Regions from separate parts of the Homo sapiens genome. Here region 1 is linked to region 2. Evidence: fine-mapped expression QTL. A gene starts in region 2. The other region holds a variant in brackets. All regions are shown on one strand. Distances are from middle to middle.

Evidence for each region. PIP is the estimated chance that this variant, and not a neighbour inherited with it, causes the effect.
Region 1: its variant is the best candidate, but not a certain one, in a credible set for the expression of PAK4 in testis (GTEx, PIP 0.88).

The regions. Positions count from the first base shown.
Region 1 is chr19:39,368,509-39,373,878 of GRCh38, forward strand. SAMD4B (sterile alpha motif domain containing 4B) reads left to right here. Exons shown (of 14, transcript NM_001384574.2): 4 at 1,147-1,617. It also overlaps the pseudogene RN7SL566P. Among named protein-coding and RNA genes, the nearest start is that of PAF1, 20 kb to the right of the region's middle. The variant G/A (reference allele first, on the strand shown) is at 2,334.
Region 2 is chr19:39,122,562-39,127,931 of GRCh38, forward strand. It overlaps PAK4 (p21 (RAC1) activated kinase 4), which reads left to right and starts at 3,225. Exons shown (of 10, transcript NM_005884.5): 1 at 3,225-3,358.

The sequences.
Region 1 (5,370 bases), 250 kb after region 2:
GAATGGGAGATGGAGGGTGCCCTGGAAATGAAGGTGATGTTAGGCTAGGAGTTCTTGGACTTGAGTCTGTTGGTGCTTGCTGGTTGCCATTATAAACTCCTGGTCAGGAACATGACATCCTGTTGTGATTTAGGAAGATAAATGCATCTGGATGTATGGGATCGATTGGAAGGGGAGAATCTAGAAGCAGAGAGACCAGTTAAAAAACAATAGCAAGCATTTATTATGTCGCCAAACCACTTTGTGTTCTTTGCTAGCTCATTGAATCTCAAAGCAACACTGTGAATTGGGTACTGTAATTATCTCCAAAATTTCGCAGATAATTTAGTGCTCCATGAGGTTCAAGGTAGCTTACCAAGATCTAGCTAGTAAGCTGGGGTGTCTAGACCATCTGATTCCAGAGCCCAAGCTTTTAACTACCATATACCACTGCCTTCTCCATTCAGGAAGGAGACTGCTTTTTGGCAGGGGAAATGGCATAGAGGCCATGAAGAATGGAGGAAGGAGTCATGGAGATAAAGCATGAGAGCAGGCCTGGGGACAGGAGTTGTTCAGATTCCAGAGTAGCAAGTTTGGCTGATTGGGAGGCACTGCAGGTTTCTGAGAACAGGAGTGATAGAACAAAGAAAAATTACTCTACACCAGCTGTGGTGGGCACATGACTGTAGTACCAGCTACTTGGGAGGCTGAGGCAAGAGGATTGCCTGAGTCCAGGAGTTCTGGGCTATAGTGTGCTATGCTGATTGGGTGTCTGCACTAAGTGTGGCCCCAGTATGGTGACCTCCTAGGAGTGGGGGACCACCAGGTTGCCTAAGGAGGGGTGAACTGGCCCAGTTTGGAAATGGAGCAGGTCAAAACTCCCGTGCTGATCAATAGTGGGATTGCACTTGTGAATAGCCACTGCACTGCAGCCTGGGCAACATAGTGAGACCCCATCTCTTAAAAAAAATAAGACAAAAATTACTCCAGAGGCAGGGTCAGTGTGTTTGATCTCACCTATATGAGGGATAAGTTTGGGAGTTATGAAAAGAAAATCGTTATGAAAAGAAGATTGGAGCTGAGGGAATAGGCCATAGGCAGTGCTCTCAGGTGAATAGGAGTACCCCACCCTGGCTCTCCTGATATTTCTTCTTATCCCTTCTGTAGCCATCGTCAGCCAGTGGCAGCAGGAGTCCAAAGAGAAGGTGGTGTCCCTCCTGCTGTCCCACCTTCCCCTGCTTCAGCCAGGCAACACAGAGGCCAAGTCGGAGTACATGAGGCTACTGCAGAAAGTGCTGGCCTACTCAATCGAGAGCAATGCTTTCATCGAGGAGAGTCGCCAGCTGCTTTCCTATGCCCTCATCCACCCAGCCACCACACTGGAGGACCGCAACGCACTGGCCCTCTGGCTGAGCCACCTGGAAGAGCGGTTGGCTAGTGGCTTCCGCTCCCGGCCAGAGCCCTCCTACCATTCACGTCAAGGCTCAGATGAGTGGGGGGGCCCTGCAGAGCTAGGCCCTGGGGAGGCAGGGCCAGGCTGGCAGGACAAGCCACCCCGGGAAAATGGACACGTGCCCTTCCACCCATCCAGCTCAGTGCCGCCAGCCATCAACAGTATTGGGAGCAATGCAAACACAGGTAAGTGGCGGGGGTGTCCCAGAAGGCCATGCCTACTTGAAAAAGGTTGGACTAGGCTCAGTGAGAGCTCTCTCGCTCTGTGGCATTAGACAAGTCACATAAGCTGTAGGCCTCAACTTTATGAGGCAATGCAGAGGCTGTGAACTGGCTTTCCCAGAGCTGAATCTGACCTACAGACATGTCTTATTGAACCCATACTTTGGTTTGGTTTTATTTTGTTGTGTTGGGTTTTTAAATAAATGTGAGTGGTACAAAGAATCAAGAATTTTTCCCTAAAAATGAGATTTCCAGCCTTTCTTGAGAAGTCAAAAGATCTAGCAACTCAACAAGATCTGTTTTCCTAGTGGCAGCAATAATATAGAGCTTAATGTTGAGCATGCCCTTTAGACCCTGCACAAGTGCCCTAGTCTGCCTCTGCTCCCACCAACCCCCCTTTGGGCATTTCTGATATATACCTGGCCTCTAAGGGCATCAGGCTATGACGCTTGATGGAGGTGTGCATACCATCATCTGAGATCCCTTCCAGTTCAGACAACATTATGGATTTTATGTATCTGGCCTCACTTTACAGCTTTGTTTCTGAGAACACTGTCTGTATAAGACAAAACTCATGCTGCAAGGTATTTGTAATAGTAGGTAGCATTTTTCAGCATTGACTATGCTAGGTACTCTTTTATAGACACTTTTCAGGTATGATCTCAGTCCGCATCACAACC[G/A]TATCATTAGCCCTATTCAACAGATGAGGACATCGGGACTCAGAGGTGAAGTGATGTGTTCAAAGTCACACGTAGAACAAGTGGTGGAACAGACCCAACCAGTCTGATGGCAGAGCCTGCCTCTGACCACTACACTGTCCTGCCAACTAAGCAGGTTTGAAAGAGCTCTCTTAGTAAAAGCCCTGCAGGCGGGAGTGAGCAGAAGTTGTTGGTATCCCAGTGACTTTTTGAAATGCACAGGATAAGGGAGGGTGGATTTTCCAAGCCATGGTAAGGCAGCATGACCTGACCCAGGGTGAGGGAGAGGGTTCATGATGTAAACCTCAGAGTAGCTAGTCACCTTCAGCAGGCACTGGTTTAAAGCAAGACAAGAGAGAGTGACAGTGAAATGTCACATGTGTCAGTGGGTGGGGGTAACCTCGGGTCCCTAATGCCCCGCTGTCTGGTACCTGGTGCTCATCAGTTATTCCTTGAGCCTGTTTTTCCCCCAGTTAGTGTGGCTATTCTGGTCCATCTGCCTCCCTCCCAGTTGCTGGTGAGAACCTGGGAAGATAGAGGGATAGAAGGGCAGTTTCAGGAAACTTAGCAACCTGAGGTGTCTTGGACCTCATTTTCCAGTCATGGAGCATCACAGTTCCAGGATGGGAGGATGTATTAATAATGATCATTCTAGGCAAAAAATATTGAGTGCTAGTCCGGGCATGGTGGCTCACGCCTGTAATCCCAGCACTTTGGGAGGCCGAGGCAGGCAGATCACCTGAGGTCAGGAGTTCGAGACCAGCCTGACCAACATGGTGAAACCTCATCTCTACTAAAAATATAAAAATTAGCTGGGTATGGTGGTGCATGCCTATAATTCCAGTTACTCGGGGGGCTGAGGCAGGAAGGTCGCTTGAACCCAGGAGGTGGAGGTGGCAGTGAGCCGAGATCTTGCCATTGCATTCCAGCCAGGGCAACAGAGCGAGACCCCATCTCAAAAAAAAAAAAACAAAAACACACATCGAGTGCTTAGTCTTTACTAGGAGCTATTCTAAGAACTTTATACATATAAACTCAAGGTTTAAAGCCAGGCATTCTGACTATAGACTTCATACTCTGAACTACTATGCTACACTACCTCCACCAAAAAGTACCTCTCCTGGAGATGCTCATCCCTCACCAAGGGGAGGGGTCACCCAGGCAGGGTGCCTATAAATTTCTTTGTCTTCATACCTTTTGTGCTCCCCATCATGGGTACCCCAGCAGCCATTAAAGGATGAAGATTGAACAATGTTGATAGGGGTTTGGACCAAAAGAGGAAAAGGAATTGGGCATTCCAAGTAGAAGGCACAGCATGAAATAAGCACGGGGTGGATAATTAGAGGGGACAGTATACAGACAGATCTGGCTGGGGTGGATTCGAATGAGTAATAACAGTAGCAGAGACTTGTGCTTACCGTGTGCCTATCCCTCTGCTAAGGACTTCATGCAGAAATGGAGGCAGAGAGGTGAATGAAGTGACTTGCCCAAGATCACACAGAGGCGACAGAGTCAGAGTCAGGATTTGAACTCAGGCCTGTCTTTACCCTCAGACCTCAGTGTGTGAAGGCTACATTCTGGGGGGCGTTGAAGGACAGGAGAAGCTTTTGGATTCCAGGCAGTTGCAGGAAACAGGAAATCATTAAAATATTTTTGAGTGGGGAGCAAGGATTGGCCTTTGAGGGCAGGCAGCTTGGGTTTGGGGTGCTGCCAAGAACAGATCAGGATTTCTTGGAGAGTGCAAGGCCCTGGATCTCTGGCCGGCATTCTTGTTTTTGTCATTCTCATGCTGTGGCCAGCCTCCACCCCAGTGCGGAGCCAAGCAGGGCTCCTCAGGAACTGCACGATCATTCCAGTCAGGGTAATTTCCTGCCTCTCAGCCTCTCCTGCCTACTTCTTGGCTGAGAAGGGAGAAAGAAGGAGGCCAGAGACACCAAAACAGGCAAAAAGGCCTGTCTTGAGGATTCCCCAGTCCCCCAGGGCCCAGAGTGTGCCATGTTCCCCAAGAGTGCTGAGTGGGGACAGAAGCCAGGGCTGAGGGAGTCTAGAGGCTGAAGAACTCCTGGGAAGAGGACCCTGGACACTCTGGGGTAGGGCAGAAACTGGTATTAAGGGTGGGCCACTGCCTTGCCCTGTCCCTTAGGTGACTTCCTAGCCAGGAGCATTAGTATTGTCACAGCTGAGGGAAGATGCTCTGGGGCCTGCACCAGGCTAGCCCTCCTTCCTGGGCTGGGTGTCACTGTAGCACTGGCAGGAACCCCAGCCTTTCCATCAGAAACAAGGCTTGGGCTCTGTCTCAGCCTGTCAACTCCCGTGGGAACTGGGGCAAAGGGCTTCAGCTCCCTGGGCCTTGATGTCCTCACCTACCCAGGGTGAGGCTCGTTGGCTTTGTTTCATTTCTTTTTGTCTAGGCTGACTTGGGGTACTTCTGGATGCCATAGGTGGAGCTCAGAGGCCCTCTTAGCACCCTTTTGTCCTTTATGAAACTTCGTTGGAAGGACTTCTGTGTGTCATGCCCTGTGCCTGATCATGGGATTGCAGAAGTAATTGGACTGGGCTGCCATTCTCCATGGACCCACAGTCCAGTGCAAGAGGGAGGCTAGTGAGGAGGGCAGCAAGCAAGAGGGAGGCTAGTGAGGAGGGCAGCAAGCGCCAGGCCTGAGGCAGCAGCAGAGGGGTACATGACCGAGGCATGAAGGGAGAAGTGGCTGATGGAGAAGAGTTGGCGAGGTGAGCGAGGCAGAGGAAAAAGCACAGATAAAGGTCTGGGAGCTCATGGGAACCTGCCCTGTCTTGGGAGTGGTTAAAAATCAAGTTGGAGGCCAGGCATGGTGGCTCACACCTGTAATCTCAGCACTTTGGGAGGCCAAGGCAGGCGGATCACCTGAGGTCGGGAGTTCAAGACCAGCCTAAGCAACATGGAGAAACCCCCGTCTCTACTAAAAAAATACAAAATTAGCCAGGCGTGGTGGTGGGTGCCTGTAATGCCAGCTACTCAGGAGGCTGAGGCAGGAGAATT
Region 2 (5,370 bases):
ATTTTCCTGCCTCAGCCTCCTGAGTAGCTGGGATTACAGATGTGCACCACCATGCCCGGCTAATTTTTTGTATTCTTAGTAGAAACGGGGGTTTCACCACGTTGGCCAGGCTGGTCTCGAAATCCTGACCTCAAGTGATCCGCCTGCCTCGGCCTACCAAAGTGCTGAGATTCCAGGCGGAAGCCACCACACCCGGCCACTGTTACTATTCTTAATTCTTAAAGATACACCTTCTCCTTGACCCAGAAGTTTCATTTGTAGTAGGAACAATAATTAGAGACAGGCACAAGGAAATAATTAGAGATGGTCACAAATATTTAGCTGCTTGGATTTTGCATGACAGGGAGGGGGATTATTTATAATGGCAAGGTACTACAGCATAGATGTTCAAAAGGACAGTGATTAAACAAATTCGAGTTCATTGATAGGATGGCATCTTATGCAGCCATTAAAACTAATCTTCTTGAAGAATATTTAATGACATGGAAAGACACTGGTGATATTTACAATCTTGTGGTTTAAAAGACAACATTCTAGGCTGGGTGTGGTGGCTCACGCCTATAATTCAAACACTTTGGGAGGCCAAGGCGGGGCGGATCACCTGAGGTCAGGAGTTCGAGACCAGCCTGACCAACATGGAGAAACCCCGTCTCAACTGAAAATACAAAATTAGTTGGGCGTGGTGGCACATGCCTGTAATCTCAGCTACTGGGGAGGCTGAGGAGGGAGAATCGCTTGAGCCCGGGAAGCAAAAGTTGCAGTGAGCTGAGATCATGCCATTGTACTCCAGCGTGGGCAATGAGAGCAAAATTCCGTCTCAAAAAAAAAAAAAAAGACACAACATTCTTTACAAACGTATGTTTCCAATTCTGTCAAAAGAAAAAAGGGGTCAGTCATGGTGGCTCACACCTGCAATCCCAGCACTTTGGGAGGCTAAGGTGAGAGGATTGTTTGAGGCCAGGAGTTCAAGACCAGCCTGGGCAACACAGCGAGACCCCGTCTCTACTAAAAATTAAGAAAATTAGCCAAGCCAGGTGCAGTGGCTCATGCCTGTAATCCAACACTTTGGAAGGCCAAGGCGGACAGATCACTTGAGACCAGGAGTTCGAGACCATCCTGGCCAACATGGGGAAGCCCCGTCTCTACTAAAAATACAAAAATTAGCCGGGCATGGTGGTAGGCGCCCAGGAGTCGTTTGAACTCTGGAGGCGGAGGTTGCAGTGAGCCAAGATCATGCTACTACACTCCAGCCTGGGTGACAAAGTGAGATTCTGTCGAAAGAAAGAGGAAAGAAAGAAGGAAGGAAGGAAGGAAGGAAAGAAAGAGAAAGAAAGAAAGAAAAAGAAAGAAAGAAAGAAAATTAGCCGGTGTGGTGGCTTATGCCTATAGTCCCAGCTACTTGAGAGGCTAGGTTGGAAGGATCACTTGAGCCCAGGAGTTTCAGACTGCAATCCCGCCTGGGCGACAGAGTAAGACCCCTATCTAAAAAAAAAAAAAAAAACAAAAAACAAAACAAACAAAAAAAAAAACGAATGAACAAATAAAAAGAAAAAAGATAGGTAAACATAAAGAAAAATTAACTCATCATTCAATCATTCATTCATTGTTGCCACCGACATTAGTAGAAATTAATTAAATGCCTACTATGTGGCTGTTCTGGGGCAGAGGAGAAGCACCAAACATTTAAGAGTATCTCTGAAGGGGTGGAATTACCACGCATTCAAACAGCCCTTCCACCAATGTTTACTGAGCATCTACATGCCAACAGTGCTGGGGCACTGGGAATGCAGCAGTGAACAAAGACAGAAATCCATGTTGTCATGGGGCTGACATTCCAGCAGAGGAGACAACCAACAAGCAATAACTACAATTAGGAGTGAGAAATAAGAACAAAGCAGACAGAGTTTGGTAGTATGTGAGAGGGATGTTTGCTGCTTTCCTTAGGGTGAGCGAGGGAATTAGTTCACAGAGAAAGTGACATCTGTGTAAAGCCCTGAAAAAAGGGAGGGAGAGATAAGGATACCTGGGGGAAGAGTATGTTCCAGGCAGAGGAACAACCAGTGCAAAGACTGTGAGGTGAGAGCGCACCTGACAAGAGTTCAGGAACAGCATGAAGGCTGGAGTCCAGTGAATAAGATCCAGGAGGAGAGATGTCTGGCCGGGCGCAGTGGCTCACGCCTGCAATCCCAGCACTTTGGGAGGCCGAGGCAGGAGTATAGTTTGAGCCCAGGAGTTCGAGACCAGCCTGGCCAACACAACAAAACTCTCTCTTTAAAAATAAAAGAAAAAGGCCAGCTTGGTGGCTCACACGTGTAATCCCAGCACTCTGGGAGGCCGAGGCGGATAGATCACCTGAGGTCAGGAGTTCGACCTGGCCAACATGGTGAAACGCTGTCTCTACTAAAAATACAAAAAATTAGCTGGGTGTGGTGGTGGACGCCTGTAATTCCAGCTACTCAGGAGGCTGAGGCAGGAGAATCTCTTGAACCCGGGAGGCGGAGGTTGCAGTGAGCTGAGATCGCGCCATTGCACTCCAGCCTGGGCAACAAGAGCGAAACTCTATCTCAAGACAAATAAATAAGTAAAAATAAAATTTAAAAAAATTTTTAAAGAAGATGTCTGCTGTTTGTTTTCAATATTTTGACCAATTACTTCGTAAAAACTTATTTAAAAATTGAAGAGCAAACAGTCTCAGGTTCCCGGGCTCAGACAGACCAGCGTTCAAAACTCATTACCTTCTTTCTATGATGCTAAGCCAGCTATTTCACCCTCTGAACCTCTGTTTCTTTATCTGTAAAATGGGTATTAATGATATTATACCACAGGGTTGTATATGCAGCGAGAAAATGCAAGTAAAACACTTATCCCGGTGCCTGCCTCCTAGTAAGTGCTTAAGAACTGTTTCTGCCCATTAACTCATTACTTTCTCCCAGCCCCTAACTCCTTCTGGGGGGGAAGTTAGAAAATCGGTATCACACGAAAACAGTCATTTCCCCTTTAAGGACCTCAGTGGGCCGGGAGCCAGCCTTCCCGCACCTTTTCCAAAATTTCCAATCCCCGCTTGGCATTTTCTGCCCGAAGGTCTCCGATTGGACGCTCTGTACCAATCGGAGGCTGGAGCGGGCCCTGAGAGGCGCCCGACTCCGCCCCCGCACTGGCCCTGCCCACTGCCCGGTCAGCCTCGTTGCTATGGGGACTGGTGGGCGGTGAGGGGGGAAAGCCCCGGATGTTCGTTGGGGATTCAACATGGCGGCGGGAGTGTCCGCGGTGGTGGCGGTGCAAGAGAGCTGAGGGAGGCGCGAGGGCGCGGAGTTCCAGGTCGAGCAGTTAGGCCGCGAGCGACTGCGGCGCCGAGCCGGTAGGATAAGGGGTCCGGCCAGGGGCTTGCGGTGGGCCGGGCGCTGGCGGCGGGACGGCGTTTCCGCGAGGAGGGGGGCGGGGCCGCCGGGGTCAAAGGTCACTGGTGGAGGGAAGGGTCGCGTCCGAGGGGTCGGGGGTTAACGCAGACTGGAGGGAGTTGTAGTGGAGGTCGGAGATCAAACCAGCGAAGGGGGCGTGGCGAAGGGGAGTGCAAAGTTTGAAATTCGAAGTGGGGGCGCGTTCGAGGGGTTCTGGGCGAGTCTCAAAAAAGGCAGGGTCAAAGTTAATAATTTGAGGGAAGGCTGCCCCCACGAGGGTCAGAGGTCACAGCCCCAGGGGCGCCAGGTTGGAGGTTTAAAGCTGCCCCTAGCGGAGCAGATGAATGAGTTTTAGGTTCGGGGGCGTCTTTTAGGGGTTCAAAGCTGGGGCGTGCCTAGAAGGTACAAAGGTGAGAATCTGACAGCGGGGCAGCTGTTTCCCAGAGTCAAAAATTAAAACCCAAGGAGGGCGTATTGCGGGGGACGGGGGGGGGGGGGGGGGCCGGGTCAGAGATGCTTCCTGGTGACAGGAGAAGGGGGAACCCTCCCACAAATAATAATGGCAAACACTCATGAAACACTATGGGCTAGACCCTCTTTTTAACGCTTTACTTGTATGAGCTTATTCAGTCCTCACTATAGTCTTAGGGGGTCTTAACCTGGTATTAAGAGGTTAAGTGATTTGCACAAGGTCACCCGATGCATAAGTTGTGCGCTGGGATTCTAACTCCGGAGTTCTGGCCCAGAGCCCTGCTCTGGCCGACCGCCTCTCAAATCATCATAATGTCGGTTAATGTTTAATGAGGGCTCACACTGTGCTCCACGCCCTGTGTGCCCGGTCGTATTTCACTCCTGCTGCAATCTTGTGAAGTGAGTGCTCAAGATGAACCTACTTTACAGACGGGAAAAATGAGGCTCAGAAGCTTCTGCTGAAGGCAGAGTTAGAATCGAAGCTGGGCCTGGGTGATTCCAGGGCTCCTGCCCCTGGTCGCCACATTGTCCGCTGCCAGCCATTAGGTCTCTCCTGGAAGCAGGGGGCTGGGCAGGGCTGGGCCACTCCCTGGGCGGATCGGATTGTCTGCTTGGTTTCCTTGGAAGGGTGTGATCTGGCAGGGAAGATTCCTGTGAGCCTATGGGAGTAGGGTGTTTGTAGGTGGTCTGGAGTCCGAGCAAGGGAGTCCGACGGGCTTCTGACTGGGGAGAGTGTCCCTGGGTGGTACCCTGGGCAGAGCGGGGTGTTCACTGTTCTTAAAACCCTAAGCTCTCACTGTGGTCCTTAGTCACTCCCACCTCACTTCTTATGGCTCTGCCCATTTCTCCCCAGCCCCTTTACTGTTCTCCAACTCCAGGCCCATGCCTCCCGCCCGGTCTTTGACCTTCCTGTTCCTTCTGCTGGGAATCCTTTCCCCACCCTGCCCTCTCTCACTGACGGGTCGCTCACTCTCAGCTGGCCCGGGACCACCCTGGCTCGCCTTGCTGCAGGCTCTTTTTCTCTCATCTGACCAGCCCTTACCTCCCTCCTTACCTTAATTATTAGGGTGCATGGTGGAATTGCTCTGTGGGGTTCCTTGCCTCGGTCCCCACTGAAGCCCTGCCTGGCCTGCAGAGGATGTGACATTGCTGGGGGTTGACTGTTGGGCACTGTGCCGGGTGCTGGGAGTGTGGCAGGGGACGAGATCCACAGAGCCCCTAGCCTCAGAGGGCACTCAGTTCCCTGGTGGGAGCAGAGTGGAACCAGCCCCCAAGCCAGTGACACAAGACTGCGTCTCTGCAAACGGTGATGTGGCTTGCGAGGGCATCTTCAGAGAGCCGGGAGAGTGCCCCTACCCTGGGCTGAAGCCTGAGTCCCTTTCCCCTGGGAAGGCTCTGAAGGATGGGGAGGAGGGCTGGGAATGGGCTTACCAGGCAGGAGGAGCAGTGTGTGCAGAGGCCCTGGCATGACTGGAGGTCAGGACTCGGGTGCACAGTTGGG